4 linked regions of the Homo sapiens genome follow. The protein of the gene in region 1 interacts with the protein of each later gene in a pairwise test. Each region holds a gene or a part of one and is shown on either strand. Other genes may lie near its edges. The genes, in order: SLC35A1, SLC34A2, TMPRSS2 and ASGR2.

Region 1 (7,027 bases):
TTGTTACTTTTATGTAACTTCAGTGAGTAAAGCTAAATATAAGATTAAGAGCTGTATTCTTAATAAATACATTAACTTAAGCAGGATTTAACCTGATTAATACTGAAATTATTTACCCTCTTCTTTAAAACTTTCTGTGTGGTGAGATTCCCACATATTCTTTCCAATACCTCCTAAATCTCCTCTACTTTCTGATACTTTTCTGTTATTCTCTTTTACTAGTTCTTTTAGCATCCTCTGTTTTTTTTTGTAACTTATTTCAAAATATCTTATGTAACATTGCTATAATCTTTGGTACTACAGTGATATTTGCACTTTCCAGCAATTAACATTCTGGTATACCTTGGTTTCTCTAATGTCTACATTAGAGAAGGAACCAGAAAAAGATACCTTGGCCATCCTGACCGTGAAAAAATAGCTCCTAAGCATCCAACAAAAAGGATATGGCCAAAAGAGACAGATCTGAAGGTTAATCCTGACGCACTGTACTTTACTTTTTGCTCCACTGAAGGAAAGGAATACTCAGATTGGCTGCTAATTTGTTTCATAAGCCCTTCTTTTTATGTGAAAAGTGAGGGAGAAGTGATAAGAAAGAAAAGAGTGGGGAGAAAAGGGACCACAGCAGCCTTTATTGGTGCAGGTATCGTGATTATTTGGAGTAGCAGTTGGATCCTTAAGTAGCCCATATTCTGACAGGACAAAGAGAATCAGCCCTGTTTTTTGGAGAGTCAAAAGGTCGTTTGTTACCAGTGAAGGCTTCTAATGTCTTATTTTTTTCTTTTTTTTAAAAGAGATGGTATCTTACTCTTTCACCCAGGCTGGAGTGCAGTGGTGGCATCATAGCTCACTGTAGCTTCAAACTCCTGGGCTCAAGTGATGCTCCCACCTCAGCCTCCTGCGTAGCTGGGATGATAGGCATGTGCCACCACTCCTGGCAGTTTTTTTTTTTTTTTTAAGAGAAGGGATTTTCCTCTGTTACTTGGGCTGGTCTCCAACTCCTGGCCTCAAGTGATCCTCTTGCCTTAGCCTCCTGAGTAGCTGGGATACAGGTGTGAGCCACCACACCCACCAAGGCTATAATATATTTAACAGGTGGAGGTAAAGTGGCATTGCCCATAGCTGGGGATTAGGGAAAGGATAAATAGCCATTATATTGTAGCTTTTGAGGGTTTAGCATGAAGAATCTTACACCAGGAGATAAATGAATATGGGAGAAGGTGGAGTGTGAAGCATGGGCACAAACAGCCACCTCTCAGCAGTTCCTTCTGGGTATCACCTTAAAGACACATCATCAGTGTATGAGTCAGCATTTTAGAAGGGCACTAAAACTTGCACTTCATACAGTCTGTAAAATTTATATCTATGCTATCATGATACTAGAGATAATTATAATGTTCAGTTATCTTCTCTGATACATCACCTTATTAAGGTGATTATTTTACATTTTAATCTCTTTTTCTCTAATTTTTTCATCAGTTTTATAATTGAGGAGAAAACATTTTGAAAATTATTCTTTATACTCTATTTAAGATGTTGGCCAGGTGCAGTGGCTCATGCCTGTAATTCCAGCACTTTGGGAGGCCGAGGCAGGAGGATCACTTAAGGTCAGGAGTTTGAGACCAGCCTGCCAACATGGAAACCCCGTCTCTACCAAAAATACAAAAATAAGCCGGGCGTAGTGGCCTGTGCATGTAGTCCCAGCTACTCAGGAGGCTGAGGTAGGAGAATCCATGAACCTGGGAGATGGAGGTTGCAGTGAGCCGAGATTGCACCATTGCACTCCAGGTTGGGTGACAGAGAAAGACTCCGTCTCAAAAAAAACAAAACAAAACAACAAAGATGTAAGGAAAGTATATGGGGCATCTTAGATTTGCATTAAGCAGTTAAAAAAAAAGGCAAACATTAGTTTAAAGAGCCAATCTTCAGAAGCCTGGAAAACTCTCCTACATAGATTTTTTGGTGGAAAATCTGTGGTATTTTTGGTATTCTTCTGCTTTTCGAATAGAGTTTGTAGTCCACCACTAGGCTGTGTGCGTTCCTTTTCAGCATATAGACTTAACACTGTGGTGTGGGTTTGGATTTGGTAATACAAAGAGATCTGTAACTAAGAAGGATGTCTTTTGTTTCTGTGGCTTAGGTCAAAGTTCCTGTCTTATTAATTAAGCATTTTCTTGGAGGTAGAATGTTCTACAGCAAATAAATAGGCACAGGTTAGTCAATTTAATATAATGGACTTTTGCTTTCTCTCAGAACTTGGGCAATTATATTTGCAGCATTTAAAAATGAAAAAATTCAACTCACAACTGTTGATTCTAATATATTAACCAAAAATACAGAATCTCATTGTAATTATCAAACTTTGAGTTGGAACAGAGCTATTTCACCAACAAAGTATTATGGTTTTCTTAAGGATATCGTGAGCTGCAGTTAGGACCATTATTATAAAGCACTTCTTTTGGGGTATTGGTGCTTATTATAAAACATTGCTTTATTTTTACTTTCAGGAAATCAATGAGCTGATTTATGATACAGGAAATACAAGCCAGATTAGCCACGTCCTTCTGAAATAATAATAGCAAAAATAATAGTTAAGAGCATGCATAATCAATATGCAGTCAAACAGTAAACTTTATGTACATTAGAGATATAGTTTACTTTTGTTGGAGTTAGTAAATTATTCAGATCTGCTACAGAATTATACAGATATAAAGTATGAGAATATTCTTACATAAGGATTTATTATCTACTATATTTCATAAGTACTAAATTCATTTATAAATAATACTGACCTGACTCTTCCTAACCCACTTAACGAACTACCAAAGCCTTTTTATTTGCAATTAAATCTATTGTAATTTAAAAAAAACTTTAAAAATAGGCCAGGTGCAGTGGCTCACGCCTGTAATCCCAGTACTTTGGGAGGCCGAGGCGGGCAGATCACTTGAGGTCAGGAGTTTGAAACCAGCCTGGCCAACAATACTAAAAATACAAAAAATTTAGCTTGGTGTGGTGGTGGGTGCCTGTAATCCTAGGTACTCAGGAGGCTGAGGCAGGAGAATCACTTGAACACGGGAGGTGGAGGTTGCAGTGAGCTGAGATAGCGCCACTGCACTCCAGCCGGGGCGACACAACAAGACTCCATCTCAAAAATAAATATAAAAATAAAAATGGATATGCAAACTGATCAATTAAAAAGTAATCAGGGTGAACTTGATGAAATAGTTAAAGTAGCAGGGGATGAATTTTTTTATAGGTAATATCAACAGTTTTCCTAATCTCATTATTCAATATACTCAGAATCTCTCAGAGCTTTGACTAGAGATAGTGGTAAATCTAGTTGTTGTCATATTTTCCCAAACAGAACTATAATTTTTTAAAGAGGATACATTATTGGTATGTTTCTTTTAATCTAAAACTAGTTAGAAATTATTAGTTTGCTAAATTACAGCAAGCATAGTATGCTTGTCCTGTGTTTGAAGAAGTCTTATTAAAATAATACTCTTTAATTTTCTTCCTTACCACCCTCTCATCTCCCCCTTTTGTTTTCAAAGAGAAACTGGTAGTCTGGGTAGATTCAAAGCATCTTTAAGAGAAAATGTCTTGGGGAGCCCCAAGGAACTGTTGAAGTTAAGTGTGCCATCGTTAGTGTATGCTGTTCAGAACAACATGGCTTTCCTAGCTCTTAGCAATCTGGATGCAGCAGTGTACCAGGTAAGTGGAGTTAATGATAATGAAAAGCACAGAATCTTTTATGGTAAAAAGAGTTTTTATTAACTCTTTATCATATTATCAATTTTTTTTTTTTTTTTGAGATGGAGTCTCGCTCTTTCGTCTAGGCTGGAGTGCAGTGACGTGATCTCAGCTCACTGCAATCTCCGCCGCCCAGGTTCAAGCGATTCTCCTGCCTCAGCCTCCCGCGTAGCTGGGACTATAGGCACATGCCACCACACCCAGCTAATTTTTTGTATTTTTAGTAGAGATGAGGTTTCACTATGTTGGCCATGATGGTCTTGATCTCCAGACCTCGTGATCCACCACCCGCCTCGGCCTCCCAAAGTTCTGGGATTACAGGTGTGAGCCACCGTGCCCGGCCATTATCAAATATTTTTTATTGATAATTTTATCAATGATACCAGAAATAATATATTTGTATCAGAGACTAACATTAACTGAATTTATTAATTCATTCTCTTTTTTTTAGGTGACCTACCAGTTGAAGATTCCGTGTACTGCTTTATGCACTGTTTTAATGTTAAACCGGACACTCAGCAAATTACAGTGGGTTTCAGTTTTTATGCTGTGTGCTGGAGTTACGCTTGTACAGTGGAAACCAGCCCAAGCTACAAAAGTGGTGGTAAGAAACAAAATGCACACCATAACTTCCCATAAATAGAAAACTTCCTTAAGTCTTATACTGTTCAGTTACATTGATGCATGCAGCATGACTACATTTCTTTGATTTAAAATAACTTTTGCCTTATAGATAGGCCTTTTTTCTTTAGCATATTATTAGGGATAATAATACTTATTGGTTGTTTCTCAGAGGAGAATATGCATAAAATATGTTACAGATGGAACATACCTTAGAAATAATGTGTTCCATCCCCTCCATTTTATGGATGACAGTCCCCAAAGAGGTGAAGGAACTTGTCCTAAATTAGTTAATAGCTAACTTGTGACCACAACTGTGCCAGTTTCCATACTGTATATGTTTAGAACTTCTAGACCTCTTTCAAACATCTCAGAAACACTGGGCAAGGTTTTTCTGCATCTAGTTTTCATCTTCTCTCTCAACTGTCAGTCTCTGGCACATCTCCCTACTGTCAGTGATCAGGATGACAAGGGAAGGAGTGTTCTTACTGATAATTGATAATTATCTTTAGTTTTTAAGAGTTAATGTGAAGGTACATAACAGATTTTTAAAGAGTTAACGCTAAGATACATACATGATTTTTTTTCTTACATTGTATGCCTCAATCAGTTATTTCCCCAAAGAGAAACAGGAAATGGGATGCCAGTGAATAGTTTTGTGAAGGTCAGGAGTTTCCTACAGTTGAATATTTACTCTAACTTTTAGCAAACAGACTATGGTTCTCTTAGGAATGGAAGGCGGCTGGGATGTACAGTGCTTGTGAACAGTATCATATCCCCACCCTCCAGGTCCCCTCCTTCCCCAATTAAAACCCTACTGTTTCTTTCTATAATATGGTTTCTAGACAGACTTCCTGATCCCTGCCTTCTGCCCCTACACTTTTCCTTATATTTTTCTCCTAGATGCATTCATCTGTCATTATTTCTCAATATATCCTAAAACCCCACTGTCTCCCAATGTTGTCTAAGTAATACGAGGCACAGTTTGGTAATTACCCCTTTGTTCTGAATACCGGAGACTTGTTATACAGTCATGCATCGCTTAACAAAGAATGTAAGTTCAGGGTTCTGAGAGATGCATCATTAGGTGATTTCACTGTTGTGCAAACATCATGGAGTATACTTACACAAATCTAGATGGTATAGACTACTTACTACACATCTAGGCTGTACAGTATATAGCCTATTGTTCCTAGGCTACAAACTTCTGCAGCATGTTACTGTGCTGAATACTGTAGCGAGTTGTAACACAGTGGTAAGTTTAGCGTACCTAAACATAGAAAAGGCACAAATATAGTTTTATCTTACAGGACCGCTGTTTTATATGTGGTTCATCATGGACTGAAATGTCATTATGTGGTACATGACTGTTAATTTCTGGGGGGCAGGCAAAGTATCTATTTTACAATTGATCATAAACCACTACATGTAACTGTGTCACCCAAATAGTTTGTCTCAAATGTATCTTGTATCCCTCTCACCCCACTGTTCCCTCAATCTGTCTGCACTGCCATGCACTCCTCCACTACTGGTTAAGTGGGTTCCAAGTGTCAGGACTGGAATAGACTCTCATTGACACTAGAACTCAAACTCTGGCTTATTCTAAACCAGAATGCAGGTTGAGTTTGTATTTATTAAGCTCTTCTTGTTAGCTTTGGGTCATTGCTCAGCCCCTTGAGTTATTTCCAGTTCTTACCCATTATTAGCTTCTCCTTTGGGTATTACGCTTTCCAGAGTCAAAAAAAATATGCCTTCTGGGTCTTTAATGAAAATTTTAGGTAGAACAGGACCAGAGTTCTGTGGCTGTACCTTTAGAATTCTCTCTAGCTTGATCTTTTTCTTGCTTACTGAACATATCATCTCTCATAGTTTTTATGGGTCAGGAATTTGAGGGTGCCTTAGCTAGCTGGTTCTGGCTTGAGGTTGCAGTCAAGATACTGGCTAGGGCTGCAGTCAACTGAAGACTTGACTACGGCTGGAGGATCTGTTTCTAACGTGGCTTATCTATATGCCTGGCAAGTTGGTATTGGTTGATGGCCTAGCTTGATTTTGTTCAATTAACTACCATTTTTCTGTATGAGCATTCACACACTTACGGATTGTACCTTTATCCTCACTACAGTTCTGTGTTGTCTATAAAAATATTATGTGGCTGGTCGCAGATCACCAGGTGAGGAGTTCGAGACCAGCCTGGCTAACATGGTGAAACCCCGTCTGTACTAAAAATACAAAAACTTAGCTGGGCGTGGTGGCAGGCGCCTGTAATCCTAGCTACTCAGGAGGCTGAGGCAGGAGAATCGCTTGAACCTGGGAGGCAGAGGTTGCAGTGAGCCGAGATCGCGCCACTGCACACCAGCTCGAGTGATAGTGCGAGACTCTGTTTCAATAATAATAATAATAACAATAATATGCAAGTCTGTCACATTTTTTGCCAAACATTATCTCTATGGAATTCCCCTCATCACTTAACATTAGGAGTCCTTTCAGTAAGGAAATCTGGTATGTTTCACACTTGGTGAAGTCACACTATTTTCCACTGATGACCATTAAGCTTTTTAAGTACAAGTCATCTCTAAATCTGTTCTAACATTTTGCTGGTAATCAATGTAACAATAACAGCTGCAATCATTTATAATGCACTAAATACTAGCATTAT
Region 2 (6,425 bases), on another chromosome or scaffold:
AACAGTTGTGTGATTTTTAAAGCCATCACTTCATCTTCCAGCCTCATGCGATCCCACTGATTATGACATAGTTTCAGTGGTGCCCCTTGCTGCGAAGGAGGCTGAGAAGGGCTGTCTTGATTTGGGGCTGCCATCTGTTAAACTAACAACCAGGAATCTGTTTGTAGGAAAGACAGGATCTGGGGGAATAAATAACAATCTGTAGCCGTGGTGGCTCCATGCCCTCCTGACAAGATTCTTTGTGGTCTTTCAGGCCAGCATATCTTTGTGAATTTCCACCTCCCGGATCTTGCTGTGGGCACCATCTTGCTCATACTCTCCCTGCTGGTCCTCTGTGGTTGCCTGATCATGATTGTCAAGATCCTGGGCTCTGTGCTCAAGGGGCAGGTCGCCACTGTCATCAAGAAGACCATCAACACTGGTAGGTACACTGCCCTCACTTGTAGGCCTCACATGTAGTCACTGCATGGGGTGTGGGGGTCCTTTAGATTCCCATCTAGCAATGGCCTCTGCATGGAGTTTCTCTCTCAGATTGGATCAGCACCAGAAGTGAGGATGTCATTCACCTGGAAATGTTCTTGGCATCCTGGGTGGGGTCTAGGGAGCAGGCCCAAGTTTCCATTGCATCTTGGCAAGGTCCTGAGCAGGAGTTCATATCTAGAGAGCTGTGAGTCAGGCCTTCCTTCTTAGCGGGTTTCCTGTATGCTCAGAGCTTTACTGGCTCTGTCAAGACCCCTTAGAAAAAGGACCCCAGGTGTCTGCCCTCGCCCCCACCTCCCTTCACTCTTGTAAAGGAAATGTGATGCATAAATACATCAGCATCTAGAGGTGGCCAATGAGACTGCTGGCTAAGAGGATTTCCTGCCAAGTAGGGTGTCCTGGCCAATGAGAGCTCGCTAAGCCAATGACATCATCACTTCATGAAAGCTCAGTGAAATATAGCCAAGAAAATTCGCCCCCCACCCCAGATTGTCTTGGGGAACAGAGCAACTCTGGGTGCTTCTGGGAAATGCAGGGCCTGATCCGGTGCTAGTTGGGTGGAGGACTCAGTTGGCAGGCATGTTCCAAGCTGCTACAGTTTCTTGATGCTCTTTAAGGCAGAAATGAAGGTTGAAGGTCAAATGTGGGTGCTGACAGGAGACCAGGGCAGGCGAGGAAGCATGCTCTCAGCACTTTCTGGAAGGAGAGTGGTTACTTGGGTGGGTTCACTCTTTCTAACCTGACCTCCAGGGAATCTGTGTTTTTGTTTTCATAACACTTACCTGTATCCTTGGTTTTTCCATCTGAATATGCGGAGCAAAAGACAATGGGGAATGAAACTGGATTCTAAAACTCTACTCTGTAATCTGAGACCATATATGGGATGATGTACAACCTCACCCCTAAGCCCAGCCCCTACCCCAGGCCACCAGGCCATACCTTCCCCGGAGAGGCCATGACATCTCTTCCTTCTGTCTTCCAGATTTCCCCTTTCCCTTTGCATGGTTGACTGGCTACCTGGCCATCCTCGTCGGGGCAGGCATGACCTTCATCGTACAGAGCAGCTCTGTGTTCACGTCGGCCTTGACCCCCCTGATTGGTGAGTTACACCCTGGCTTCTCCCTCTGGCCACCACTGCCATTTCCTGTCATCCCATGGGGCTGATATGTTTGTGTTTTGTGTTTCCCCCAGGAATCGGCGTGATAACCATTGAGAGGGCTTATCCACTCACGCTGGGCTCCAACATCGGCACCACCACCACCGCCATCCTGGCCGCCTTAGCCAGCCCTGGCAATGCATTGAGGAGTTCACTCCAGGTCAGGACTTGGGGCACGGGGACAGGGGCCCTGGGAGTGGGACCACCCATGGTCTTGCAAACTGGTCTCTAACAAGAGCCAGGCTTTTCTCTGTACTATCCAAAATATGGAACTAATATGTGGAGGGGAAGCCACGGGTAAAGTTTTCAGGACCTTGATATGAGAACAATCAAAACTATCAGTTCTGAGAGAAGCAGTAAGACCCTCATAACTGGTGGTTGTTTCAGCAAAAGTGGGGTGGCCCCTTGATATAGATGTGGAAAAGGTACTTAGGAAGCACAGACACCACCTCCCATCTCCTCACTGCCTCCTATGGGGAACTTTACAATTAGGAGAACTCCTTGGCATGGACCATCTATGTTACTTTGTGCAAGACCTTTGGGATTTGAATTTATTTATTTATTTTTATTTTATTTTTTTGAGACAGAGTCTCGCACTGTAGCCCAGGCTGGAGTGCAGTGATACAATCTCCACTCACTGCAACCTCCACCTCCCAGGTTCAAGTGATTTTCCTGCCTCAGCCTCCCGAGCAGCTGGGATTACAGGCACCTGCCACCACACCTGGCTGATTTTTTGTATTTTTAGTAGAGACGGGGTTTCCCTATGTTGGCCAGGCTGGTCTTGAACTCTGGACCTCATGATGTGCTTGCCTTGGCCTCCCAAAGTGCTGGGATTACAGGCGTGAGCCACTGCACCCAGCCGGGGATTTGAATTCTTATCTCACCATTTACATACTAAGTGACCTTTGGCAAGTGATCTAACCTGAGCGTCAATTCCCTCATCTGAAAGATGGAGGACATAACCCCTATCTCATTAGGATTATTATAAAGATCTGATGAGGCAAAGCCATCTGTGCAACAGAAATAGAAATTCAGGCATCTAATATAAATTAACCGCATATGTCATCCTAAAATTTTTTAGTAGATACATTTTTAAAAGTAGAAACAGGCTGATTCATTCTTCAATAATGTATTTGATCTAAACCATTATCACTTTAATATGTCATCTGTCAAAAATTGAGAGTCTTTGAAATCTGGTGTGTATTTCATACTTAAAGCACATCTCAGTGTGGACATGCGGCTAGTGTATTGGACAGTGCTGGTCCACAGCCTGGGCATGGAAATTGGCACCTTGGGAAAGTGACCAAGCGCCTGGCCTCTGGAGCCAGGCTCCCAGGATGTGAATTTCCACCTCTTCCATCTCCCACCTGTGGGACTTGAGGAGCCTCCATTTTCTCATGTCAAGAAATAATGGTTGCCACTCTGTAGAGTGTTTTTTGAGAATTGAGATAATGCACAGTTGAGTGCTCCTGGCCCTCCCAGACACATAGTAGGTCCTCATGGAATCCAGGTACCCTCTGGGCTGAGCCATAAGGACAAAGAAGGCCTGGAAGGCCCGAGACTGTGCTGCCTGTGATGCCTGCTAGCTTACCTCCCCCTCCTCCTCCCTACTGCCACCCGCATTGGGCAACAGGCCCCTCACCTGTCCAACCTCTTGTGTTGCAGATCGCCCTGTGCCACTTTTTCTTCAACATCTCCGGCATCTTGCTGTGGTACCCGATCCCGTTCACTCGCCTGCCCATCCGCATGGCCAAGGGGCTGGGCAACATCTCTGCCAAGTATCGCTGGTTCGCCGTCTTCTACCTGATCATCTTCTTCTTCCTGATCCCGCTGACGGTGTTTGGCCTCTCGCTGGCCGGCTGGCGGGTGCTGGTTGGTGTCGGGGTTCCCGTCGTCTTCATCATCATCCTGGTACTGTGCCTCCGACTCCTGCAGTCTCGCTGCCCACGCGTCCTGCCGAAGAAACTCCAGAACTGGAACTTCCTGCCGCTGTGGATGCGCTCGCTGAAGCCCTGGGATGCCGTCGTCTCCAAGTTCACCGGCTGCTTCCAGATGCGCTGCTGCTGCTGCTGCCGCGTGTGCTGCCGCGCGTGCTGCTTGCTGTGTGACTGCCCCAAGTGCTGCCGCTGCAGCAAGTGCTGCGAGGACTTGGAGGAGGCGCAGGAGGGGCAGGATGTCCCTGTCAAGGCTCCTGAGACCTTTGATAACATAACCATTAGCAGAGAGGCTCAGGGTGAGGTCCCTGCCTCGGACTCAAAGACCGAATGCACGGCCTTGTAGGGGACGCCCCAGATTGTCAGGGATGGGGGGATGGTCCTTGAGTTTTGCATGCTCTCCTCCCTCCCACTTCTGCACCCTTTCACCACCTCGAGGAGATTTGCTCCCCATTAGCGAATGAAATTGATGCAGTCCTACCTAACTCGATTCCCTTTGGCTTGGTGGTAGGCCTGCAGGGCACTTTTATTCCAACCCCTGGTCACTCAGTAATCTTTTACTCCAGGAAGGCACAGGATGGTACCTAAAGAGAATTAGAGAATGAACCTGGCGGGACGGATGTCTAATCCTGCGCCTAGCTGGGTTGGTCAGTAGAACCTATTTTCAGACTCAAAAACCATCTTCAGAAAGAAAAGGCCCAGGGAAGGAATGTATGAGAGGCTCTCCCAGATGAGGAAGTGTACTCTCTATGACTATCAAGCTCAGGCCTCTCCCTTTTTTTAAACCAAAGTCTGGCAACCAAGAGCAGCAGCTCCATGGCCTCCTTGCCCCAGATCAGCCTGGGTCAGGGGACATAGTGTCATTGTTTGGAAACTGCAGACCACAAGGTGTGGGTCTATCCCACTTCCTAGTGCTCCCCACATTCCCCATCAGGGCTTCCTCACGTGGACAGGTGTGCTAGTCCAGGCAGTTCACTTGCAGTTTCCTTGTCCTCATGCTTCGGGGATGGGAGCCACGCCTGAACTAGAGTTCAGGCTGGATACATGTGCTCACCTGCTGCTCTTGTCTTCCTAAGAGACAGAGAGTGGGGCAGATGGAGGAGAAGAAAGTGAGGAATGAGTAGCATAGCATTCTGCCAAAAGGGCCCCAGATTCTTAATTTAGCAAACTAAGAAGCCCAATTCAAAAGCATTGTGGCTAAAGTCTAACGCTCCTCTCTTGGTCAGATAACAAAAGCCCTCCCTGTTGGATCTTTTGAAATAAAACGTGCAAGTTATCCAGGCTCGTAGCCTGCATGCTGCCACCTTGAATCCCAGGGAGTATCTGCACCTGGAATAGCTCTCCACCCCTCTCTGCCTCCTTACTTTCTGTGCAAGATGACTTCCTGGGTTAACTTCCTTCTTTCCATCCACCCACCCACTGGAATCTCTTTCCAAACATTTTTCCATTTTCCCACAGATGGGCTTTGATTAGCTGTCCTCTCTCCATGCCTGCAAAGCTCCAGATTTTTGGGGAAAGCTGTACCCAACTGGACTGCCCAGTGAACTGGGATCATTAAGTACAGTCGAGCACACGTGTGTGCATGGGTCAAAGGGGTGTGTTCCTTCTCATCCTAGATGCCTTCTCTGTGCCTTCCACAGCCTCCTGCCTGATTACACCACTGCCCCCGCCCCACCCTCAGCCATCCCAATTCTTCCTGGCCAGTGCGCTCCAGCCTTATCTAGGAAAGGAGGAGTGGGTGTAGCCGTGCAGCAAGATTGGGGCCTCCCCCATCCCAGCTTCTCCACCATCCCAGCAAGTCAGGATATCAGACAGTCCTCCCCTGACCCTCCCCCTTGTAGATATCAATTCCCAAACAGAGCCAAATACTCTATATCTATAGTCACAGCCCTGTACAGCATTTTTCATAAGTTATATAGTAAATGGTCTGCATGATTTGTGCTTCTAGTGCTCTCATTTGGAAATGAGGCAGGCTTCTTCTATGAAATGTAAAGAAAGAAACCACTTTGTATATTTTGTAATACCACCTCTGTGGCCATGCCTGCCCCGCCCACTCTGTATATATGTAAGTTAAACCCGGGCAGGGGCTGTGGCCGTCTTTGTACTCTGGTGATTTTTAAAAATTGAATCTTTGTACTTGCATTGATTGTATAATAATTTTGAGACCAGGTCTCGCTGTGTTGCTCAGGCTGGTCTCAAACTCCTGAGATCAAGCAATCCGCCCACCTCAGCCTCCCAAAGTGCTGAGATCACAGGCGTGAGCCACCACCAGGCCTGATTGTAATTTTTTTTTTTTTTTTTTTACTGGTTATGGGAAGGGAGAAATAAAATCATCAAACCCAAAAGGAGTGTGTTGTTTTTAATTACAGGGAAATAGGGACCTCCTTGGATCTATTTTATAAAAATGTGAGGTCTCCTTTTACCTCGTTGCACTGCTAGGAGCAAGATGGGTCACCAGCAGCTGTACTGGAGCCACCCAAAAAAATTCGGCCAGGGTTCTCGTTCTTGTCGTGTCTATTCAAACCAGCACGGTCTGATCCGGAAATATGGCCTCAATAAGTGCCGCCAATGTTTCTGTCAGTACGCGAAGGATATCGGTTTCATTAAGTTGGACTAAATGATCTTCCTTCAAAGGATTATCCAAGTCATCTACTCAATGAAAAACCATGATAGTTCTTTGTACATAAAATAAACATTTGAAAAAACAAAACAAAACGAACAAAAAAAAATGTGAGGTCTCTTCCTTCACTGAATGTCACTACCCACCACTTACCATCTGACCCTCCAGCTGCATAATTTGTGGAGCCTCTTGTTCAAAAACCTGGAGAAAAGTGTCATTTTATATTGTTCAATGC
Region 3 (7,027 bases), on another chromosome or scaffold:
CATCACGCTGTACACATTAAACATGTACAATTGGGTTTTTTTGAGACAAGGTCTCCTTCTGTCACCCAGTCTGGAGTGCAGTGGCTCAGTCATGGCTCATTGCAGCCTCGACCTCCTGGGCTCAATCCATCCTTCCCCCTCAGCCTCCTGAAAAGCTGGGGCCACAGGCATGTACCATCATGCCAGGCTAATGCATATATATTTATATTTTTTGGTGGAGATGGGGTTGGTCTCGAACTCTGGGCTCAAGTGATCCTCCCGCCTTGCCCTTCCAAAGTGCTGAGATTACAGGCATGAACCACAGCACCAGGCCTACATGTAAAATTTTTATTTGTCAACTATACTTTGACAAAGCTGAGAAAAAAAATCCTAATATTTAAAAAAAAAAAAAAAAGGACTAGCTTGAGACCTTTTCCAGCTCTCTGGCTTATCAGCTGCCGTCTCTTCCGGGTGCAGATAGCTGGAAGGGAAAGAAAATCCCTAAAATTACCCACAAGCCAAGAATGAAGTGTCTCCCTTTGAGCCACAGTGGCAGTTTTGTTTTTAATCATAGAAGTGTATTTTGAGCCGGGTGTGCTGGCTCACGCCTGTAATCCCCGCACTTTGGGAGGCCGAGGTGGGGGGCGGAGGGGGTGGGGATCGCCTGAGGTCAGGAGTTCGAGACCAGCCTGACCAACATGGAGAAACCCCGTCTCTACTAAAAATACAAAATTAGCCGGCGTGGTGGTGCATGCCTGTAATCCCAGCTACTCATGAGGCTGAGTCAGGAGAATCTCTTGAACCCAGGAGGTGGAGGTTGCGGTGAGCTGAGATCATGCCATTGCACTCCAGCCTGGGAACAAGAAAAAAAAAGAAGAAGAAGAAGAAGTGTATTCATTTCAGTTACTTTTAAAAAAGTGAACAGACTTTATATTTTAGAGCGGTTTTAGGTTTACAGAAAATGAAACAGACAGGGCAGCGAGCTCCTTGTACTCCTCCCCAGCACACAGTTGCCCTGTTATGAACATCCCACATCAGTGCTGTGCGTTCATTAACACCGATGAACCTGATGCATACATTATGATGAACTGAAGTCCTGGACTTCACCCTTTCTCTTGTACAGTTCTGTGGGATTTGACAAATGCATAATGCTGTACAGCCACAATGATAGTATCGTCCAGAGTAGTTCTCCTGCCTTAAAACCTCTTTTGCTGCACCTGTTTCTCTCTCCCCACTCACCCCAGCTATCTGATCTTCTTAGTGCCTCCGAAGTTTTGGTCTTTTCAGGATGTTGTAGCGTTGGAATCATGGAGTATGTAGCCTTCACCACATACACCTTCCTTCACTTTGTTGGCTTCCTTTACTTAGTAATATGCATTCAAGTTTCCTCCATGCCTTTTCATGGCTTGATAGCTCATTTCTTTTTAGCACCAAATAATATTCCGTTGTCCAGATGTAGCACAATGTTTATCCATTCATGTAACCTGTGACCGACTCACAGATAGGATGTGGAATCACTCACCACAGAGGCATTAGACAATAATCAGACCCAAGTCATTTCATGGGGGAACAAGCCCACAGGTACCAGACTGTCCAGTGAGTCAGGGCCACTCGTAGGAAGTAAGAAGAGAGGCTAGAGCATAGCCAGGTCCTCACTTTATACTTTAAGCCCATGTGTATTTCTCCCAAACCACACAGCATTGTTTCCATGCTTTCAGCTTTGCATGAATAACGTGATACTTGAACGCATCATTTATCACTTGCTCTCTTTCCCACAGCGCTGTTTTCAAGCTTCTTCCTGTTCATGATGCTCTGCTTAACCCTTAAGCTGCATGGGATTCTGTTCTGTGAATACGCCCACCCCATGTATTATCCTGCCCAGCAAAAAGTCCCCAAAACTCTGGATGGTGGTTACCTCTAGGGAGGGAGAGAAGAGATTGGGAATAGGGAGCGACTTCAACGGTGTTTGTAATGTTTTGTTTCTTTAAATAAAAGAGCTGAGATCATTTCAGCAGAATGTTGATTTAGAGTCTCCTGGACAATTTGTTGCTCAAAGTGCTCTCTTAAAGAGCACTTTAAAAAAAAAAACCTTTTATCTTATTATTTATTTATTTATTTATTGAGACGGAGTTTTGCTCTGTCACCCAGGCTGGAGTGGAGTGGTGTGATCTCAGCTCACTGCAACCTTTACCTCCTGGGTTCAAGCAATTCCCCTGCCTCAGCCTCCCAAGTAGGTGGGATTACAGATGCGTGCCACCACACTTGGCTAATTTTTGCATTTTAGTAGAGATCGGTTTCTCCATGTTGGCCAGGCTGATCTCAAACGCCTGACCTCAGGTGATCTGCCCGCCTTGGCCTCCCAAAGTGCTGGTATTACAGGCGTGAGCTACCATGCCTGGCTTATCTTATATATTTTTAAAAACAGCTTATTGAGATCTAATTTATGTACCATAAAATTCAAGTATATAATTCAGTGCTTTTATATATAAAACATATATATGAAATAGCTTATTGAGATATAATTTTTTATATAAAACAGCTTATTGATATGTAATGTATGTACCATAAAATTTAAATATATAATTCACTGGCTTTTATATATTCACGAATATGTGCAACTATCACCACAGTCAATTTTAGCATATTTTCATCAGCTCATAAAGAAACCCCAAGCCCTTGAACTATCACCCCATATCCCTCCTCCCAGCCCGTCCCTCCTACTCATAAGCAACCACTAATCTACTTAGTGTCTATAGATTTCCTACTCTAGGCATTCCATGTGAGCGGGATCATGCAATACGTGGGCTCACACAATATAAGTGGCATTCCATGTGAGTCGGCTCATGCAGTATGTCCGGCTCCTTTCACTGAGCATAAGGTCTTCAGCACTCATCCAGGTTGCAGCCTGTGTCTGAATTTCATTCCCTCTTCTGGCTGAATCGTATTCCATTGTGTATCTTGGACATATCCTATTCTGCTCACCCAGCCGTTGGTGGGCGTTTGGAGTGTTTTCGCCTTTCAGCTGTTTTAAGAGGGTTGCAGTGAACATTTGTACAAGTTTTGGACCCAATGCCTGTTTTCAATTCTCTTGTGTAGAGAGCACTTTTTAGCAGAAAAAGAATAGATTTGTGGCCTCCCTTTGTGTGCGGTCAGTGCCTTGAGAAGAGTGAACTGTGCTGCCACCTCCGGAGCCGTGGAGAGCGCGGGGCTTGGGTAGCAGCTAGGACGATACAAGTTGGGACAAGGCCAGGTGCAATGGCTCACGCCTGTAATTCCAACACTTTGGGAGACCGAGGCAGGGGGATCACCTGAGGTCAGGAGTTCAAGACCAGCCTGGCCAACATGGTGAAACCCCATCTCTAATAAAACAGAAAAATTAACTGGACGGGGTGGTGGACGCCTGTAATCCCAGCTACTCGGGAGGCTGAGGCAGGAGAATCACTTGAACCTGGGAGGCGGAGGCTGCAGTGAGTGGAGATCAGACCACTGCACTTCAGCCTAGGTGACAGAGCGAGACTCCGTCTCAAAAAAAAGAAAAAAAAAGAAAGAAACTCATGGATAATCCTCCCTCTCGTGCAGTTCGCCTCTACGGACCAAACTTCATCCTTCAGGTGTACTCATCTCAGAGGAAGTCCTGGCACCCTGTGTGCCAAGACGACTGGAACGAGAACTACGGGCGGGCGGCCTGCAGGGACATGGGCTATAAGTGAGTATGGGGCAGCACCCGCCGAGTGACAGTAACAGACAGCAGAAACACGAGAAGACCCTCTCTCTGCCTCCCTGTGAAAGCACCGGCACATGAGTGCTGGGGACAATTGTCACCTTCCAAAAGCTGAGCCCTATAACCAGCAGGTGGAATTTGTCCTGCTAGGGCTGTGCCCAGCACACAGACCTTGGCTCACTGCCACCTTGCCCTGCCTCCTCCTTGGCCTCTATAGACTCCTGGTTGCTCGGGAGTGCCCAGTGCTGTGGTCATCTGGTCAGAGGGGTAGGCTGAGGGCGTTAGGTGCCTCTTTTTCCAAGGTGCCTCTCAGCCAGGGTCCATTCACCTCCCTGGGTAGAGGTTGGACCAGAACAGCTGGCGAGGAGGGTTGGGCTGGGGAGAGCAGCAGAGACAAATCCTGTGCCAGTTTCACTTCATTCGGGAGCCATGGAAGCCTTTTGAGCTGGGGAGAGAATCAATCAATCAGACTGATACTTAAAAAATGTCATTCCTGCTCGTAGCTCTGAGGGAAGGTGGGAAGGCTTAACAGGGTGTGTGTCGCCTGACAGTGATTCCTAACGGGGGTGGGGCGGTGGTTACCATTTACCAGCACTGCCTGGGGAGATGCGGCAGCCCTCAGGCATCGGGGGAGAGGGTGGTAGGATGCTACTGCCACTTTGTTTTCCATGGGAGGGTCCCCAGGTGATTTCTATGCAACTTTAGGGTATTCAATATGCCAGTTTTCAGAATGAATTACCACTCGGTGAGAAAGTTGGCATCTTAGCTAGTCACTGTGACATCCCTAAACAGCAGGGGTGAATTACACAGCAAAGCCCCCCCATCACAGTCCAGGAACCTGGTGGAATTGATAACTGGGGCCATGTTAACATCTGTACCTTTTATTAGATTAAATGTGTGTATGATTATACAATCCTATGTCCTTCTCATAGTTTCTTGATCCTAACCTGGATAAGAAACACGACCAATGAAGGAATTTTGTCTGACACTTTAGGGTTATTGAATCGAAAAATCGTTACAATATTCTAGCACTTGGTTAGAACGTGTGATTTTTTTTCCTAAATGCTAAGGTTTTTCCCTCTTATTCTGAATGTCGTATGAGCGGTATTATGACATAGTATAGGATTTGTGTTTGCTTATGCCTTAACCATTATCACAAATAAGGTTTTCTTTTTTAGGAATAATTTTTACTCTAGCCAAGGAATAGTGGATGACAGCGGATCCACCAGCTTTATGAAACTGAACACAAGTGCCGGCAATGTCGATATCTATAAAAAACTGTACCACAGGTATGCAGCAATTTCTTCTTGAAAAATTTTGGAATGAAATCAACTAGGAGACACCATGGGGAATCGTTGTCCTGAGTCTGATTTCTCTGAGCTGCAATACTCGGTCTGGATGGGTTTTGCATTGGGAGGAGATTAGAGTCTGACCAGGCCTGGTTACTCTAAGCAGCCCTTGGTTTATTCATAGGAAGTGGCTGAGGTTTCTCTGCTATTTCATTTTCAGCCTCTACCGTCTGCCCTTGTTGGTAGCGGCTCACACTTGCAACATCGACATTCAACTCTATTTAGTTTTCTTTCCTCTTCAGACATTTAGAGGTGTACCTATTTTGTCAGGGCGTGGTTCTAGGAATCCAAGATAATGTCTCAGTGTCCCAGCCAGGGTGACCGGCTCATTCCAGTTTGCCAGGGACTTCACTGGCTTGAGCAAGGGAAGTCCTGCTCCATTCCAGGCAGCTGGGCTGGCTGGTCCCGTTAGCCCCAACCCCGGGACAGCAGTGCCAGAGGGTGCTCTGTGAGGGATGGGCAGCATTCTGGCGGCCTGGGAATGAGTTGTGGTGTTTCCAGGGGGTAGAAGTGGGTACAAGCCACAGGTCACATGATGAGTGGCTGACCTGGCTGGGAGGGCAGAAGAGGGGATGGACTTAGGCTCTTCCTTTTGCTTTGCACATATTTAGGATGTTTGCAGACTTGCTATGATTGTTGCTGTTATGTGTTTTCTGATGTGAAAGATACACAGTGTCCTTTGCCCATGAGCTCTCCTTGCCTCCCAGGTCCCCAGGGCTTATGCCTGGTGTCTAGGCATCACCTCCCTGCCTGCCAGGTGCCAGGTGCTGCATTTCGGGGGAGGATGAACTAATCACCCCGCGCCACCTTTCCTCTGAGTGGGAGCCTGGGGCAGGTTTGCATTCCTGGAGGCCGCTGGTGGAGGGGTCTGGGGGCCTGACTTCCACTGCAGCCTGCTGTCCTGGGGAATGTGGCAGGGCAAGCCCAGTGGGGAGGGCTGTGCACGGCCAGGTGCACCCATCAAAACAGCAGGGCTGCGGTTTGTCCCTGTGGAGAAGCTAAACACAGCTGCCTGGGCACTTTGTAAATGCTGAGTGGTTCTTTGTCTTTCTGGGTTACACACGGAATCAGGGAGCCAAGTCCAGCCGGGCAGGGACGGGGGGAGGGGAGGAGGTGCTGCCGTCCCTTGGCAAGAGCCTTGGGAACTCACAAGGAGGCTGGAGGGCTTGGAAGAAAGAAGAGAAGGCCATTGTCTGGTAGGCTCTATTCTATCTCGGTGGTGGTGGTGGGGGGAGGCGCACTTCTTTTCCTCTTTCTGTGCAGCAGTTGCCCTTTGATGCCTGAGTTCTTGGCTTGTTTTCTGTCGGGCTTCTGTGAATAACCACATGTGCCCTGGCGCTGTGACCACACAGGGCTATCCCTACCGACCTTAGGATTCTTAGGAAATGTCTTCTCTTAAAGGGGACATGTCTTCACTTGGCCGTGTCAGTGCCCCAGAGCCAGAGTCCACCTGGAATGCACCTGTAGTCACTGAGAACCCGGGGGGTGTGCCTTAGTAAGAAGGTGTCAGGAAGGACCTATTATTGTAGGGCCTGGGCTCCTGCAAGGTGGTTTGGGGGTGGTTGGAGGAAGCAGAGATTTGCTCTGGATTGGATGCTGTCAGGAAGCAGGGGTAATTCTGTGAGGCTGCTTTATTATTTTTTTTCTAGGAGGAGGTTGGAATGAGGCTAGGCTAAAGCTGTGATTGGTAAAGAAACGTCCGTCGCTCAAGTTAGCCAGGACAGGAGGAGACATCAGATCGTGATTTTGTGGTTGTGAGCACAAGGTTCCTGTTCTGTCTGTTCAGACATCATTTCGGAGGAGGCTCCTTGTGTCTTGCCCCATCTCAGGCATGGAGGGGCCTAGTCCGATATTGACGCTCAGTGAAATAATTCAGGTTCCGCAGAGCACACGGCCCAGCTATCAGGGCGGGCCAGCTCTGCATGCCAGGGGCCGCGTCTTCCCTTCTCAGCATAGCCTGGGAAATTCACTGCAGGAC
Region 4 (7,027 bases), on another chromosome or scaffold:
TAGTCTTGAGCTCCTGGGCTCAAGTGATTCCCCCCGTGTCGACCTCCCAAAGTGCTGGGATTACAGATGTGATCCACAGTGCCTGGCCCTAAATTTTTCTTACGCATTTCTCATCTTCCATTATTTCCATCCAGTGTGTTTTTTCTTTTCTTTCTTTTCTTTTTTTTTTTTTTGGAGGCGGAGTCTCGCTCTGTTGCCCAGGCCGGAGTGCAGTGGCGCGATCTTGGCTCACTGCAAGCTCTGCCTCCCGGGTTCATGCCATTCTCCTGCCTCAGCCTCCCGAGTAGCTGGGACTACAGGCGCCTGCCACCACGTCTGGCTAATTTTTTGTATTTTTAGTAGAGATGGGGTTTCACCATGTTAGCCAGGATGGTGTCGATCTCCTGACCTCATGATCTGCCCGCCTTGGCCTCCCACAGTGCTGGGATTCCAGGCGTGAGCCACGGCGCCTGGCCAGTGTGTTTTTTCATTTCAGACATTGTAGTTTTTATCTCTAGAAGTTCACCTGGGGACTCTTAAATATCCTCCACAATTCTACTTAATTTTTTGAACATAATGGGATATGGCTATAATATCTGTTTTACCATCCTTGCCTGCTAATTCTAGCATCCGTGTCAGTTCTGGATCTCTTTTGATATTTATGAACCTCCTCGTTATGCATTGTGTTTTCCCGTTTCATTGCATGCCTTGTAATCTTTGATTGGCTGCCAGACATTGTCAATTTCACCTTGTTGGGTGCTGGATATTTTTGTATTCCTCTAAATGTTCTTGAGCTTTGCTCCGGGATGCAGTTAAGCAACTTAGAGTCAGTTTGATCGTTTGAACTCTTAATTGTTTTGGTCTCCTCGGACTCTCAGCTCCATCTCCTCAACGTGGGGAGTCTCTTGGGCTCTGCCTGGACTTCCCTTTCCTGGCCTGTAACCTGCAGACTCTCTCCAAACAGTAAGCTGGGGTGATCGGAGGGTTCCTGTTGTTTGCTTCTTATCCCTCAGGGATCTTTACTCCTCCTTGCCTGATGTCCAGAGTCTTGAAAGCTGCCATGTTCTATAGTTGTCTGTTTTTGTTTTGATTGTTTCTGGGGAGAGAAGAACTCTTCCCATCTTGGGCAGACCCTGTCTTTTATGTTCAAACTTTTGCCTAAGAAGCACATTACATATTTTAACTCATCTAATTATCCGAGCAATCCAATCGGGTAGCTACGACTGTGATCTCCATTTTACACACGAGAAAATGGAAGCATGGAGAAATTGAATGCTGGTGCATGATCTCAGAGCTACCTGGAGGCACAGCTGGGCTACCCTGTGGGCAGTCTGGTTTCAGGGTGGATATACAGACACGTTGCTGGGCTGACCCAGCATTGGGAGTTGATAAGTCGGACTGGGAAGCAGGACAGGACCCTCTGAGTGGAGGGTGCTGAAGACAGCAGTCAGGGACTCAGCCATGGAGGGCCAGCTTGGTGGGGAACACCGTGGTCATGGAGCGCTTCTGGATGGAGAGGAATGCAAAGGCCTTGGAGGAAGGGGTGGGGGCAGTGAGAGGGAGGGTGGGGCTGTGCTCAGAGCGGGAGTGGGCAGTGGAGGTGTCAGAGGCCTCCCTGGGTCAAATGGGGTCCTGAGTGTGGCTGCAGTGGGGAAGGTGGAAGTCACTGGTGTGAAAAAGATGAAGAGTTATGGACAGTCACTTACAGGGGCAGTGTCTGACTCAGGACAGTGGCAGGAAGTGACCTGGGGAGGAAGATTCTGGGCCCCTGACTGAGCCTCCCCAGGATGTGGTCCTGCTGGGTCGGGGGGTGATAGGAATGAGAAGACAAGGAAGTCCACAGAGTCAGGGTCCAAGGCCTAGAAGGTGTTCTGTTTGCAGGTGGATGCTGCAAAGAGAGGAGCTCAGGGCTGGGACAACTGGAGCTGCTCTGGGTCTGGAGGCAGCAGAGAGGGAGCCCAGCTCTGTGTGCAGGAAGACGTGGGTGTGTGAGTGTACGTGTGTGGGTGTGTCAGGTGTGTGTGTGTGGGAGGGAGTATGAATGTGTGCATTAGCATGCATATGCACATGTGAGAGTGGGTACAGCAGAGCGTGGTCATGAGTGTGTGCAAATGTGTGTTTTTGAGTGAAGTGAGCAATGTGTGAGTGTGTGAGTGTGTGTGAGTTTGTGAGGGCATGTGAATGTGTGTGTCAGTGCTGTCAGGGTGCAGATGGATCAAGGGGCAGGAGAGGTACCTGTGAGATGACCTCGGGCTGAGGGGAGCAAATTTAGTGTGGAACGAGGTTTCTAGGGAAGCGAGGGCAAAGGGCGCTGGGGAGGAGGCCTTGCGTGGTGGGGGATGAGGACAACAGGTGGGACCTGGAGGGTTGTGCTTGGAGAGTGGGCTATGGTGGAATGACCCAGATTTAAGGATCTCAATGGAATTTTGGCAGGGGAGGGACTGTTCCAGTATGGATTTTAGGAAGAACACAGGGCCCAGCTTCTGGAGTCTCCAATCTGAGGGGACAGGAGCCTTAGAAGAGCTGAGACTAAGGCCCGAGGTGATCTGGAGGCCTCTGCCACTGGCTGGATGGGAGGAAAACCATTCACAGATCCCCCTTCTCAGGATGTGTGCCTAGGCAGGGCCGGGTCTGCCCCCCCGCCCCCTGTGCGTCTCCCAGTCCCCCAGCTCCAGGATCCGGGCTTTGCACACAGCTGATGTGAATATCCTGAGTCGTGTGCATGGGTGTGTGTGCACCAGATTAGCTGCGTGTGTATATTTATACATGGTAATATGGGTGCGAGTGTGTAAGAGTGTGTGTGTAATGCTCAAATGCTGGGGTCAAAGCCTATGATGACCCCCCCCCATGGCCCCAACCAATCCCCCCGCCCAGGTTATGCCTCCTCAGGCTTCGGTGCCCTGTCTTTACCCTCCGGCTCCCCACACCCAGGCTGCCGGCTCCTGATGCCCCTCTCCCACAGGGCCACCTCCTGCCCAGCCCCTGGCACAGCGTCTCTGCTCCATGGTCTGCTTCAGTCTGCTTGCCCTGAGCTTCAACATCCTGCTGCTGGTGGTCATCTGTGTGACTGGGTCCCAAAGTGAGGGTCACGGGGGCCAGCAGGGATGGGCAAGGGGTAGGGAAAGAGACATGGGCAGTGGCGGGCAGCGATCGGGGCGATGGGAGGGGAAGGGATGGAGGCGGGGTGGAGCACAAGCTGGGGCAAATGCGGGGACATTGAGGGGCCAGTCACATGGACAGTGATGGGGACACGGCCCCTCTGCCTCATCCTGCCCCCACTACCACCTGACAAGGTGCACAGCTGCAAGCCGAGCTGCGGAGCCTGAAGGAAGCTTTCAGCAACTTCTCCTCGAGCACCCTGACGGAGGTCCAGGCAATCAGCACCCACGGTGAGGGGCTGGACGGCTGGGTTCTCATTTATCCGCACAGGTTTGCTGGGCTCAGTGCCGAGTCTGCAACAGGGCTGTGTGGGGTGCCGTGGGGGTGCAGGCTGGGCAAGGCGTCCAGGGGCCCTGGGGGATGTATAGGAGGGAGGCAGGTGGGGACGGACGAGGTTAGTGCCAGGTGGAGAGGTTGGATCTGCGACACCCGGAGGTGAGGAAGGCACCATGTCTTGGGCCTGTGAGCAAATCGAGTGTGGCAGGCCCATCGGAGGGGCAGGCAGGTAAGGGGTGGCCAGAGAGAGGTGGGGAGGGGCCCGGCCACGCAGGTGAGCCGTGCTGACAGAGCGAGGCTTTATTTTGAGAAAATGGGGACCCATTGAAGGGACTGAAGCAGGAGAGTGGCCTGAGCCACTGTGGCAGTGCAGGGAGCCTGGGTGTGGTCCAGGAAGCCAGGAGGTGGACGCCTGCATCGCCCAGGACGAGGCGCTGGCCCCCGGTCCCCCAGCAGCATGAGGACGGAGGGAGGCTCAGCGGGGAAACAGCTGGCTTTCCGCTTCCAGGAGGCAGCGTGGGTGACAAGATCACATCCCTAGGAGCCAAGCTGGAGAAACAGCAGCAGGACCTGAAAGCAGGTCAGAGAGCCTCCGGGGTGTGTGCGCATGTGCGTGCATGTGTACGTGTGCGGTGTGTGTAGTGTGTACGTGTGCGGTGTGTGTAGTGTGCACGTGTGCGTGCGTGCGTGTGTGTGCCTGCAAGCATGTGTATCTGTGTCTCTCTCCGTATGTGTGGTGTGATATGTCATGGATCTGTGTGTGGTGTGTAGTGTGGTGTATATGTGTGTGTTGTGTGTGTATGCATGTGTGGTGGTGTGTGTGAGATGAGTCTGTGTGTGTGCGGTATGGTATATGTGTGTGTACGCATGTGATGTGTGTGGTGTGTCTCTTGGTGTGTTTGTGTGTGTGTGATGGATCTGTGTGTGGTGTGGTCTATGTGTGGTGTACATGTCTGTGGTGTGTGTGTGGTATGGTGTGTGGTGTGGTCTATGCATGGTGTACGTGTCTGTGGGTGTATATGCTTCCCCAGCCACAGGCTGGAGCCTAGCAGGTGGGGACCACACCTGCCGGCAGCACTTTCAGCCTGTCTGTCCTAGATCACGATGCCCTGCTCTTCCATCTGAAGCACTTCCCCGTGGACCTGCGCTTCGTGGCCTGCCAGATGGAGCTCCTCCACAGCAACGGTAGGGGTGGGGCCGTCTCCAGGCCCAGTGTGCCTGCCCCTCCGGCTGGATCTCATCTCCCTGCCCCCTGTCCCCTCAGGCTCCCAAAGGACCTGCTGCCCCGTCAACTGGGTGGAGCACCAAGGCAGCTGCTACTGGTTCTCTCACTCCGGGAAGGCCTGGGCTGAGGCGGAGAAGTACTGCCAGCTGGAGAACGCACACCTGGTGGTCATCAACTCCTGGGAGGAGCAGGTGAGGCCACGCTTCCCACAGGCAGGAGGAAGCCCTTGGAAGGCCTGCTCTGGGAGGCTGGATCAGGCTTATTTTATCCATTTTTTTTTTTTTTTTGAGATGGAGTCTCGCTCTGTCGCCCAAGCTGGAGTGCAGTGGCACGATCTCGGCTCACTGCAAGCTCCGCCTTCTGGGTTCACGCCATTCTCCTGCCTCGGCCTCCCAAAGTGCTGGGATTACAGGCACGTGCCACCATGCCCGGCTAATTTTTTTGTATTTTTAGTAGAGACGGGGTTTCACCGTCTTAGCCAGGCTGGTCTGGAACTCCTGACCTCATGATCCGCCCACCTCCGCCTCCCAAAGTGGTGGGATTACAGGCGTGAACCACCGCGTCTGGCTGAACTTCAAAGTATTTTAATGCCACAGTAGTTAAGCCATATGATACAGGGGCCAGAATATATGTATTGTTTGCATTACATCAGGCTCTGTTAGTACTTTACAGCATACTGTGAGTACGAACATATTTTGCTTTACTGATCAGGTTGAACTTGCCAACATTTCATCAGTTTTGACCTATAAAAATGTCAGTTTCATGCAGTTCAACCTAAGATCTCAGTGCTCTGTGATTTGGCACACAATAAGCTCATGACCACTACAACTTCGTGGTGGACGGTGCTTTCGTCACTATGAAGCCAACGTGTGTCCCAGTTAATGCTTTTTGCCTTGAATTTATCTGATATATAAATACCACGGTCCTTGATTTTTTTGTCACTTGCATTTGCTTGCTGTATCTCTGTCCATCCTTTTGTTTCTTACCTTTTTGAATCTCTGTTTTAAATTAATGATTCTCAGTCTTGACTGTACATTGCAATCTCTTCAAGAGTTAAAAAAAATATATCGACTCCTGGATCTCGCCCTTAAAAATGCTGATTTAGGCCGGGTGCAGTGGCTCACGCCTGTAATCCCAGCACTTTGGGAGGCCGAGGTGGGCGGATCATGAAGTCAGGAGTTCGAGACCAGCCTGGCCAAAATGGTGAAACCCTATCTGTACTAAACATACAAAAATTAGCCGGGCATGGTGGCGGGTGCCTGTAATCCCAGCTACTCAGGAGGCTGAGGCAGGAGAATCACTTGAACCCGGGAGGCAGAGGTTGTGGTGAGCTGAGACTGCGCCATTATACTCCAGCCCGGGTGACAGTGCGAGACTCTGACTCAAAAAAAAAAAAAAATGCTAATTTAAATTAATCTTGGCTTCATCCTGGACCATTCCCTGAGGGGCAGCACAGGGCAGCTAAGCTTAAGGTATTTCTCCTATATAGGTTTTTTGTTTTGTTTTGTTTTTGATACAAGATCTGGCTCTATCGCCCAGGTTGGAGTGCAGTGGCATGATCTCAGCTCACTGTAACCTGTGCCTCCCGGGCTCAACGGATTCTCCCACCTCAGCCTCCCAAGTAGCTGGGACTACAGGTGCACACCACCATACCTGGGTAGTTTTTTGCATTTTTAGTAGAAATGGTGTTGTGCCATGTTGCCCAGGCTGGTCTTGAACCCCTGGCCTCAAGCGATTCGCCCGCCTGGGCCTCCCAAAATATTGGGATTACAGGTGTCTGAGCCACTGTAATCCAAAAACTGCACCTGGCAGGTTTTGTTTTTGATGTTTAAAAATCTAATAAGTACCTTTTCTTTTAATAGGTGAGTGTCTCATTTACATTCTAATAGATATGTTTAACCCTAGTCCTTTCTTTTTTCTGCTTTACATGCTTCTTAATTTTCTTACAATTGCTATGTGAGAGGTGTTCTTTTTGTTTTCTTCTTTATGGTATTTTGGAAACTATGTAGTTTATTTAGAGTTATTCCAGTGATTACTTGTATAACTTTAAATAATAGGCTGAAAATTATTGGCTTTGAAAACTAAAAGTTTGTATAACTTCCATAGGAAAGGTGAGGAGACCAGGATACCTCTTATTCCCATGTGTCTGAGTCTTTCCTTTCCTAGGTTCCTTAAGTGTTGTATCTGAAAAAAAAAAAAAATTTTTTTTTTTTTTGAGATGGAGTCTTGCTCTGTCGCCCAGGCTGGAGTGCAATGGCGCGATCTTGGCTCACTGCAACCTCTGCCTCCCAGGTTCAAGCAATTCTCCTGTCTTAGTATCCCGAGTAGCTGAGATTACAGGCACCCGCCATCGTGCCTGGCTAACTTTTATATTTTTTAGTAGAGACA

Evidence for each region.
Region 2: the proteins of SLC35A1 (region 1) and SLC34A2 interact in binary tests that used the Homo sapiens proteins (3 or more experiments, as listed by UniProt).
Region 3: the proteins of SLC35A1 (region 1) and TMPRSS2 interact in binary tests that used the Homo sapiens proteins (3 or more experiments, as listed by UniProt).
Region 4: the proteins of SLC35A1 (region 1) and ASGR2 interact in binary tests that used the Homo sapiens proteins (3 or more experiments, as listed by UniProt).

The regions. Positions count from the first base shown.
Region 1 is NC_000006.12:87,496,957-87,503,983, forward strand, and holds part of SLC35A1 (CMP-sialic acid transporter), read left to right. Parts: intron 1-3,551; coding exon 3,552-3,711; intron 3,712-4,201; coding exon 4,202-4,354; intron 4,355-7,027. UniProt on the Homo sapiens protein: Transports CMP-sialic acid from the cytosol into the Golgi apparatus, functioning as an antiporter that exchanges CMP-sialic acid for CMP. Binds both CMP-sialic acid and free CMP, but has higher affinity for free CMP.
Region 2 is NC_000004.12:25,672,834-25,679,258, forward strand, and holds the end of SLC34A2 (sodium-dependent phosphate transport protein 2B), read left to right. Parts: intron 1-253; coding exon 254-421; intron 422-1,462; coding exon 1,463-1,579; intron 1,580-1,671; coding exon 1,672-1,796; intron 1,797-3,301; coding exon 3,302-3,916; 3' UTR 3,917-5,915; downstream 5,916-6,425. UniProt on the Homo sapiens protein: Involved in actively transporting phosphate into cells via Na(+) cotransport.
Region 3 is NC_000021.9:41,477,134-41,484,160, reverse strand, and holds part of TMPRSS2 (transmembrane protease serine 2), read left to right. Parts: intron 1-3,558; coding exon 3,559-3,685; intron 3,686-4,878; coding exon 4,879-4,989; intron 4,990-7,027. UniProt on the Homo sapiens protein: Plasma membrane-anchored serine protease that cleaves at arginine residues. Participates in proteolytic cascades of relevance for the normal physiologic function of the prostate.
Region 4 is NC_000017.11:7,104,803-7,111,829, reverse strand, and holds part of ASGR2 (asialoglycoprotein receptor 2), read left to right. Parts: intron 1-2,941; coding exon 2,942-3,058; coding exon of another isoform or gene 3,059-3,094; intron 3,095-3,272; coding exon 3,273-3,368; intron 3,369-3,922; coding exon 3,923-3,994; intron 3,995-4,512; coding exon 4,513-4,599; intron 4,600-4,678; coding exon 4,679-4,830; intron 4,831-7,027. UniProt on the Homo sapiens protein: Mediates the endocytosis of plasma glycoproteins to which the terminal sialic acid residue on their complex carbohydrate moieties has been removed. The receptor recognizes terminal galactose and N-acetylgalactosamine units.